Linked DNA regions of Homo sapiens. The protein of the gene in region 2 purifies or fractionates together with the protein of the main gene of each other region. This does not show direct contact. Each region holds a gene or a part of one and is shown on either strand. Other genes may lie near its edges.

What was found.
Region 1: the proteins of LUZP1 (region 2) and VSX1 purify together in Homo sapiens (co-immunoprecipitation; one large-scale study listed by IntAct). This does not show direct contact.

What each region holds. Positions count from the first base shown.
Region 1 is NC_000020.11:25,079,096-25,083,482, forward strand, and holds the start of VSX1 (visual system homeobox 1), read right to left. Parts: upstream 3,047-4,387; 5' UTR 3,002-3,046; coding exon 2,578-3,001; intron 2,237-2,577; exon of another isoform or gene 2,173-2,236; intron 420-2,172; coding exon 341-419; intron 1-340. UniProt on the Homo sapiens protein: Binds to the 37-bp core of the locus control region (LCR) of the red/green visual pigment gene cluster. May regulate the activity of the LCR and the cone opsin genes at earlier stages of development. Dispensable in early retinal development.
Region 2 is NC_000001.11:23,088,687-23,092,495, reverse strand, and holds part of LUZP1 (leucine zipper protein 1), read left to right. Parts: coding exon 1-1,306; intron 1,307-3,442; coding exon 3,443-3,601; 3' UTR 3,602-3,809.

The DNA.
Region 1 (4,387 bases), on a different chromosome or scaffold from region 2:
TGATTAGCTGATGTCCAGAAATTTGATTCAAACGAAAACAGTTCTTTAGCTCTTTCTTAATGAATTCCATCAGCTCATTCTGACAAAATCCATTTGACAGATCCACAAAATTGTCTTTAAAATGCTCCCAAAAAAATGCTAGCAAGATTGTAGCATTTTCCCAGCCTCCTAGGAACTGCAGAATTATCTTCCCAAATGGCTTCTGTGCCCTTCCCATTGCCAACCAGGAAACCACTGGGCCTGCTATCATGCCGGGCCATAAATTCTCAGATGCAGGTGCCATAAACCTTGGGCTGTGTCCCGAGGAAAGGCAGGCAGAGGGGACTGCCTGGCCCTATACCTGTGCCGCCGCTTCTTCCTCTTGCCCAAGGTGGGGGATGCCTTTAGGTCATTCCTGTCTTCAGACTGGCTGTCCTCATCTGATGGCACAGAAAGAAGAAGAGGACTTTAAGGGTGATCATATCCCCTCTATTTCCTGGATTTTAATGTGAGGATTGAAGTTATGAACCTCTTGGGTACTTAAGTAGTTTACAGTATGAGCCAGCATTTTTAGTGCCTACTAGATCCCAGGCTCTGTGCTTAACACTGTCCATACATTATCTCAAGTATTCTTAATATAATAATAAAACACCAAAATGGCTGCTGCTATTATTATCATCCTATTTTTACAGATGAGGAAACTGAGGCACCGAATGGTTAAGTAATTTGCCCAAAATCACACAGGTAGTAAATGGTGAAGTTGAGAATTCAAATCCCAGATTATCTGAAGCCAAAACTACTCAGCCACTGATTGCACTTTCTATCCCCACACTGCTTCCAAACACATCCACCCCTATGCCCCCAGCCTCATCATCTTAACCTCTACACCAACATTTCCCAAAGGAAGTCTGGGGCTTGTGACATCAGAACCCTCGTCAGAACTGCAACCCTTCCCTGATGCACCAAATCAGAATCTCTGGAGGTGGGATCTAGGAGGCTCATTCTTGACAAGTGTGCTCAGATGATGTGTAGTTGCCCTTGAAAATTTGAGAACCACTCCACTGTGCTTTACCTTTTTATATCCAATACATCAAAAAGTCTAGATGGAAAAGAAGGTTAGAAGGCCAAACTATTGTGAGATTCATTGCTAGAAGGCATAATTGCCTCAAAATATCTTTAAAATGAATAAAGGCAAAAATAACTAAATAATACTAGTTTTACTCATCCATCAATTAGTTCACCAGAAACCTGGCTTGGATTAAAACATTCTGTATTGGGCTGTCCAACCTGATGAGACATGAGACACATAAGGTTATTAAGCACATGAAATGTGGCCAGTAAGATCAAGACATGCTGTAAACATAAATCACTTAATGGAGTTAGAAGACTTAGTGCTCCTAAAAAGTAAAATATTTTTGTATTGATTATGTGTAAAATGATAATATTTGCTATCATTGTTGGGTTAAAATATAGTATTTAGATTCATTTCACTTTTAATGTGACTGTGAGAAATTTCCGTCAAACATGAAATCACATTTCATTTTTCTTGGACAGCTCTGCTCCAGACTTTCAGAAATGCTGGCAGAGTTGGATTTAGCTGCCTTTGGTTTTGTAAGAAAGAACCCATCCCATGAAAACAGTTTTGCATTTTTAGTGACACTAATAGGGAGTTTCATTTTATCTTACGTAGAGCTCATGAAATAAAGTCCTTTTAGAGTGGAGCAAAAACCTGCCTGCCTATTGATCTGACATGCTTCCTTTTAGTATCAGAAGACCCAGTCTACTCTTTTTGCCTTGGCTGCCTGGATGCTCAGCTCTAGATTCTACCACATACCATCCTTTCTTGTGTAATTCTTTCTTTTCTCTCCCACACCCAAAACCACTCGTTTCCTTAGCCCTTGTCCTTTATAGAATTTCATTGCTTCCTTCTCTTTCCCCGCGACCCGTCTGGATTTCTTTGGGGAAATGGGTAGGCCAGGAACACATCTCTAGGCGTAACTACAATGAATCCCCAAGGTTGCTTCTTTCTCCTGCACAGGGGACTGGGAGGACGCTGCGCCGGCAGAGGAGCGCGGTACCCGGGACTCCCTTTTCAGCACCCCAAGGGGCGGACAGTTCCAGGGCTCGAGGCCCCGTACTCTTCCAGGACCCGTCAATCATTCGATCATTTCCGCCCGCGTTTCCACCTGGTACCTTGTTCGGTGCTGCTGGTGACCACCACAGGCCCGGGCCTTCCCGACCCACGCAGCTGCCAGAGGCGGAGACTGGCGCCTGGCGCTGGGGGGAAAAATGGCCCTCTGGAGATGGTTGTTGAAGACCCCAGGGTCTCATCAAAAGGTTCCACCCGGAACCAGGTGGTGGCGGTCTCACATCGCTGAGGGAACAGGACCCCGGATGAGAGGCAGGGATTTAGGATGCAGCAAGGGGCAGGCGGCGCAGCTCCGCGAATGCCCCTCCCGCGACGGGGCCTCGCTCTGGGCTCCCCGCCTAGATCTGGGCCGCTGGGGCCAGGGGTGCGGTGGGGCGATGGTCTGTGACCCCTGCGCGGCTCAGAGCCTAGGGGACAGGGGCAGGAGCGGAAAGCGCGGGCCTGATTACCGGACGTGGAGACGCTGTCGCTGCGCTTCTGGCGGCCGAGCGCAGGCGGCGGACGGCTGGGAGCCAGCGGGGCAGCGGGCTCGGGGCCCCTGGGCGGCAGGAACGGCACGTCCGCTAGGAGCAGGCAGGGTGCTCGAGCGGCCGCCGGCGGCTGCGTGCCGAAGCCACAGAGGAGGCCGAGTCCCAGCGGTAGGGCCCCACGCGCCAGGCTGGAGCCGTCAAGCCCCGGGCCCGGGCACGGCGCGACTGCCGGACCCTCGCAGCCAGATCCCTGTCCTGGGCCAGCGGGCGCCGGCAGCTCGGCCTCCAAGCCCAGCAGGTCCGTGATGGCGAAGCCCCGGGGGCGCGAGCCCCTAGGGGAACCGCCAGGCACCAGCGCCCTGCTGCTAGTGCGCCCGTCGGAAAGCGAGTCCCGGCCGGTCATGGTTCCTTAGCAAGCAAGGCGCGAGCCTCTCTGGATCCCGTTTGCGGAGGGCCCAGCTTAGAGGAAGCTTTATAGGATTGGGCTGCCGGTCGGGCGCGGGAGGCCTGAAGGGCTCCAATCAGCTGGGCGCGGGCGCGTCGCCGTTCCGGACCCCGCGAGATGGGGACGCCACCAGTTCCCCTCCCCTCGGTTACCGCCCACCCAGCTGCAGTCCCCTCAGTCACCTCCTTCTCCTCCTCTCTTCTGTCCAGCCCACCCCACCCCACCCCACCCCCATTCTAGGAGGGAGGGGAGGAAAGAAGGTAAGGGACAGTGACTCCGCTGTCTGCCTGTCCCTCGAAAAGTCGCAAGTTCTACATCCTGGCGTGGCCTTCTCCTTCCTTCCAGACTCTCTGGGTGGAGGCCCCACTCCCAGCTGCCCTGAAGCTTCTTTGATGCGACCCAACTGCCTATTAAGACCTAGGACCCCATTCCCAACCACACCCCGATGGCTACCCCATATATGTCCCCAGCCAGCCCTCCACCTCCGCCGCCGGTGCCACGAAGGCCTTCCTGTAAGAAGGCCTTCTCTGAAAATCCCCAAGGGGAAAGGAATGAAAACCGTGTATTTAATCCATGGTCATCCTACCTCCATCCCTTTAATCCATGGTCATTCTACCTCCATCCAAATCCACCCCCAGGTCCATCCCCAACACTCCACGGGCTGAACTGTAGGGGGTGGCAGACTCACAAGAGCTGGGGAAAGGGAGAGAAGCAGAGAGAGGAGTGGACTGCCCGGGGCTGAGACGGGCAGGGTACCAGGTTTAACCAACAAAACACTGTCGGCTCAGTGAAATGTGATTTCAGATAAAAAAGGAGGGCTTTTTTTTTTTGTAGGAGTATGTATCAGTATTTTATCCAGCAACCCTAAATTGGGGAGGAGTGGAGGGAGGTAAATTGAAATAAAATAGAGTCTGTCTACTGGAAAGCACACCTTTTCATCGGGGCTTACAATTTATTGTCCAATTTCACGATTATTCAAAGAAAGCCTGATTCTTTGAATAATCAGTGAAACTCTGATATTCGCTAAAGTTGGCCCCAAGCACGTGGGTAAGTAACTACTGGTTCGCGCTTTGAACCCAACCAGCCCTCATCGCTCGGAGCCCTGCGTCCCCCGCTTCCCAATCCCAGAACCCCGGAAGCAGATCTCCTCAGTCCCACTCCCTGAGGGTCCTACAGTCCGAGGTCCCGCAGCGAGGGAGGAGCAAACGCCTGAGCTCCGCGGGAACCCGGCGCGGCTGCCTGCGCGCACGCAGGGACCGGAGCCCGAGCCTGGGCCCTGCAAAGTGGGTCTCCCACTCGCTGCGCGTTCGAGTGGGGCCTCCGCTAAACATGCAGATTAAACAA
Region 2 (3,809 bases):
GGCTGATAACAGTTGCCCGAATTCCAAGGCTCCTGTTCTATCGAAGTATCCTTATAGCTGTAGAAGCCAAGAGAACATCCTTCAGGGATTTTCAACCTCACATAAAGAAGGGGTTAATCAACCTGCAGCAGTTGTGATGGAAGACAGCAGTCCGCATGAAGCCTTGAGGTGTCGAGTCATCAAATCCAGTGGCAGAGAGAAGCCAGACTCAGATGATGACTTGGACATAGCATCTCTTGTTACTGCCAAGTTGGTAAATACAACCATCACTCCAGAGCCAGAGCCCAAACCACAGCCTAACTCTAGAGAAAAGGCTAAAACCCGAGGGGCACCTAGAACCTCCCTATTTGAGAATGATAAAGATGCTGGAATGGAGAATGAATCTGTGAAATCTGTCAGAGCCTCCACCAATACCATGGAGCTCCCAGATACCAATGGTGCTGGGGTAAAAAGCCAAAGGCCCTTTAGCCCCAGAGAGGCGTTGCGGTCTAGAGCCATCATCAAACCTGTTATTGTTGATAAGGATGTGAAAAAAATCATGGGAGGATCTGGAACAGAGACTACGTTGGAGAAACAGAAACCCGTCTCCAAACCAGGGCCAAACAAAGTGACAAGTAGCATTACTATATATCCATCTGACAGCAGCAGCCCCAGAGCTGCTCCGGGTGAGGCCCTGAGGGAGAGGCACACATCCACTAGCAATATCCAGGTGGGGCTGGCAGAGCTCACATCAGTTAGCAACCATGTCAGCTCCCCTTTTGAGCTCTCCATTCACAAACATGACATCACCCTGCAGCTTGCAGAAGCGGAGAGAATGGCAGATGGGCCCCTGAAGGACAGGCCAGAAACAGTGGTCTCTCGGAGCAGCATTATAATCAAGCCATCGGATCCTGTGGAGAGGAATAGCCATGCACCTCCAGCGGAGACAATCAGGTGGAAAAGCCATAGTGCCCCTTCAGAAGTGGGCTTCTCAGATGCCAGACATGTTACTGTGCGGAATGCCTGGAAGAGTAGGCGAGACTTGAAATCTTTAGAAGACCCCCCAACTCGAATAGGTAAAAACGTGGAATCTACCAATAGCAATGCCTACACCCAGAGGTCTTCCACAGACTTCTCAGAACTCGAACAGCCCAGGTCCTGCCTTTTTGAGCAGGGCACTCGAAGGGTAGGACCAAGTTCAGGGGATGCCCCTGAGCCCTCCTCCAGAAGGACCCAAAGTAGCCTCACTGTGTCAGAGGTGCTTACCCGTCGGAATCGGGTAGGAGACACCATCACTGTCGCAGCCTGGAACCACTCAGCAAGCATGGTGAGTTCCAGCCTCTCTCCCCTCTCTCTTTTCTCCCTCCCTTTTCCTTCTTTGCCTTTTCCTTTTTCCCCTCTGCTCTGGCCTGTGTGACCCAGGATCTTGAGAACTGAGTAGAACTGGGTTCCTTAGAGAACTGTTGAAAAATCAGGGGGGTTTGACCTTTCTCCTAAAGAAGGTTTTTGGCAGCATCACTTTCCAAAATCCCTTTTCCAATTTGTTGTCTTCATTTTGCTCTCGTATATGAAGGTGACATAAAAAGGAAATCTGTCTTCTCTTCCCTTGGTTTGCCAGAGCAGCTAAAGGAGCTCCCCGTAGGCCCTCAGAACAGCATGAAAAGCACAAGAAGCAGCTGCAGCTGATGGGGAGCTCTGGGCAACAGGAGGAGGCCCGGTGCCCTTTCTGTAGGGCACAGTGAGGGGGAGCCAGGTCAGCAAGTTCTCGGCCGCCTCAGTTAGCAGATCTTCACAGGCTGCTGGCCTCTCAGGGATGAGGAGAGCCGGGGCTTACACTGGGCCTATTTTAGATAAGCGTATACCCAATTCCAAGTGACACTTTCTTTTGCCCCCCAGACAGCTGTCTGTCTCATATTATCAGTCTGAGGGCAGGGCTGGTTCAGTATAGCTCATTACAGCTTTGATAAATCCAGAACCACCTGCCTTATGTGAGTGTGAGGCTCAGGGTGTCAGAACAGCATCTGGAGAAGCCCCTGGGAGTGTCTTTTTGATGAGAAACCTGTGATGATGAAAAACTTCTTGGACCTGGACACAGTGCTCCCTTCTTTAAAAAAGCAGATGACTCTGTTAACTTGAAAAGCCCTGTGACTCTTTACAGGGTACTTAACACTGGACAAAAGTACTTCACTACCCACTATCTTATTCAGTCCCTTGAATATCTGCCTGGGGGCAGATATTATCCCCATTTTTCAGATGTAGAAGCTAAGGGTCAGAAACACAAAATATCTTACCTAAGGTCACCCAGCAGAATTACTGGAAGAGCGAAGACTTGAATCCAAGATTCCTGTCTCTAAATCCAATGCTCTTTCTACTCTAACCTTTCTTACTCATGCCTATGTTATTCTTTGATCTGCATTTGCTTGGGAGAACCAAGGAGAATATTAAAAAGGTAGAATTCTGGCCAGGCGTGGTGGCTCACACCTGTAATCCCAGCACTTTGGGAGGCCAAGGCAGGCGGATCACAAGGTCAGGAGTTCAAGACCAGCCTGGACAATATAGTGAAACCCCGTCTCTACTAAAAATACAAAATTAGCTGGGTGTGGTGGCACATGCCTGTAATCGCAGCTACTCAGGAGGCTGAGGCAGGAGAATCACTTGAACCCAGGAGGCGGAGGTTGCAGTGAGCCGAGATCGCACCATTGTACTCCAGCCTGGGCAACAAGAGTGAAATGACGTCTCAAAAAAAGAAAAAAAAAAAAAGCCAGGTGTGGTGGTGCGTGCTTGTAATCCCAGCTACTTGGGAGGCTGAGGCAGGAGAATCGCTTGAACCCAGGAGACGGAGGTTGCAGTGAGCTGAGACTGCGCCACTGCACTCCAGCCCGGGAGACAGTGCGAGACTTCGTCTCAAAAAAAAAGGTAGAATTCTAGGCGTAGGGAGAAAGACAGCTATTTGGGCCCCTGAAGCTTTGGACATTTAAGAGGAGAGATAAAGGATGAGAGACGGGAATGTGAGCTTTTTGGTAGTTTGTATGTGGGAAGGAGGAAGAGAGCTGTCCGGACCTCTCTTCAGCTCCCCATCAAGGATGTGGACCTCATCCCCAGAATCATGCGGCCTGCATGCATGTGCAGAACTCGGAGACTGCTGGCCCCTCCTCAGGGGTGCTAGTCCCATGCCCCCATTCCAGGCTCTATCCTCTGTAAGGCTCCTGTTGAGTTGTGAGCCTCCTCCTAGCCTACCCTGATTGTTCCCAGCAGCTTGGAGTTCCCAGTCTGCCGATTTCCAAGGAATTTACATATTGGCCCATACTCAGGCAAAAGCATATCTTTGCAGTTAACTTATGGCCTGTCTGGGCTATATCTGCCTCTGCTGGGTTGGAAAGGACCCACTATGGTAGCAGGTGAGGGTGTCTCGGTCCTCACTTTACTGACCTCCACAGCTCACTTTTGTTATTTATTGGCACAGGAGGAAGAAGGGGAAGACTGTACACTCAGTGTCTACAGGCAACTGCACAACTCCCTGGATCCGTCTGAACTGCCTGGGAAGCAGGGGCTGCCAGAGTCTGGGCGAGTACGGGCCGAGGAACGATTACGGCCAACCAGGCCCTGTGCTGAGGAGAACTGAGCCCGCTGGGTGTCTGTTGTCTGCCCTCTGCTCCTGCTTCTCAGCTCTTCCACCGTCCTGCCCCACGAAGGATCCAAGGCCAGTTAACCAGGCAAGACACAAGCCTTGGCTGGAAAACTGTGGTAGAGCCGGGCTGTGGCTCAGGTAATTTTTGCCATTTGGCCAGAGGGAATCAGAGACTACAAGCTGGACAGTCACCCAGGCCCAA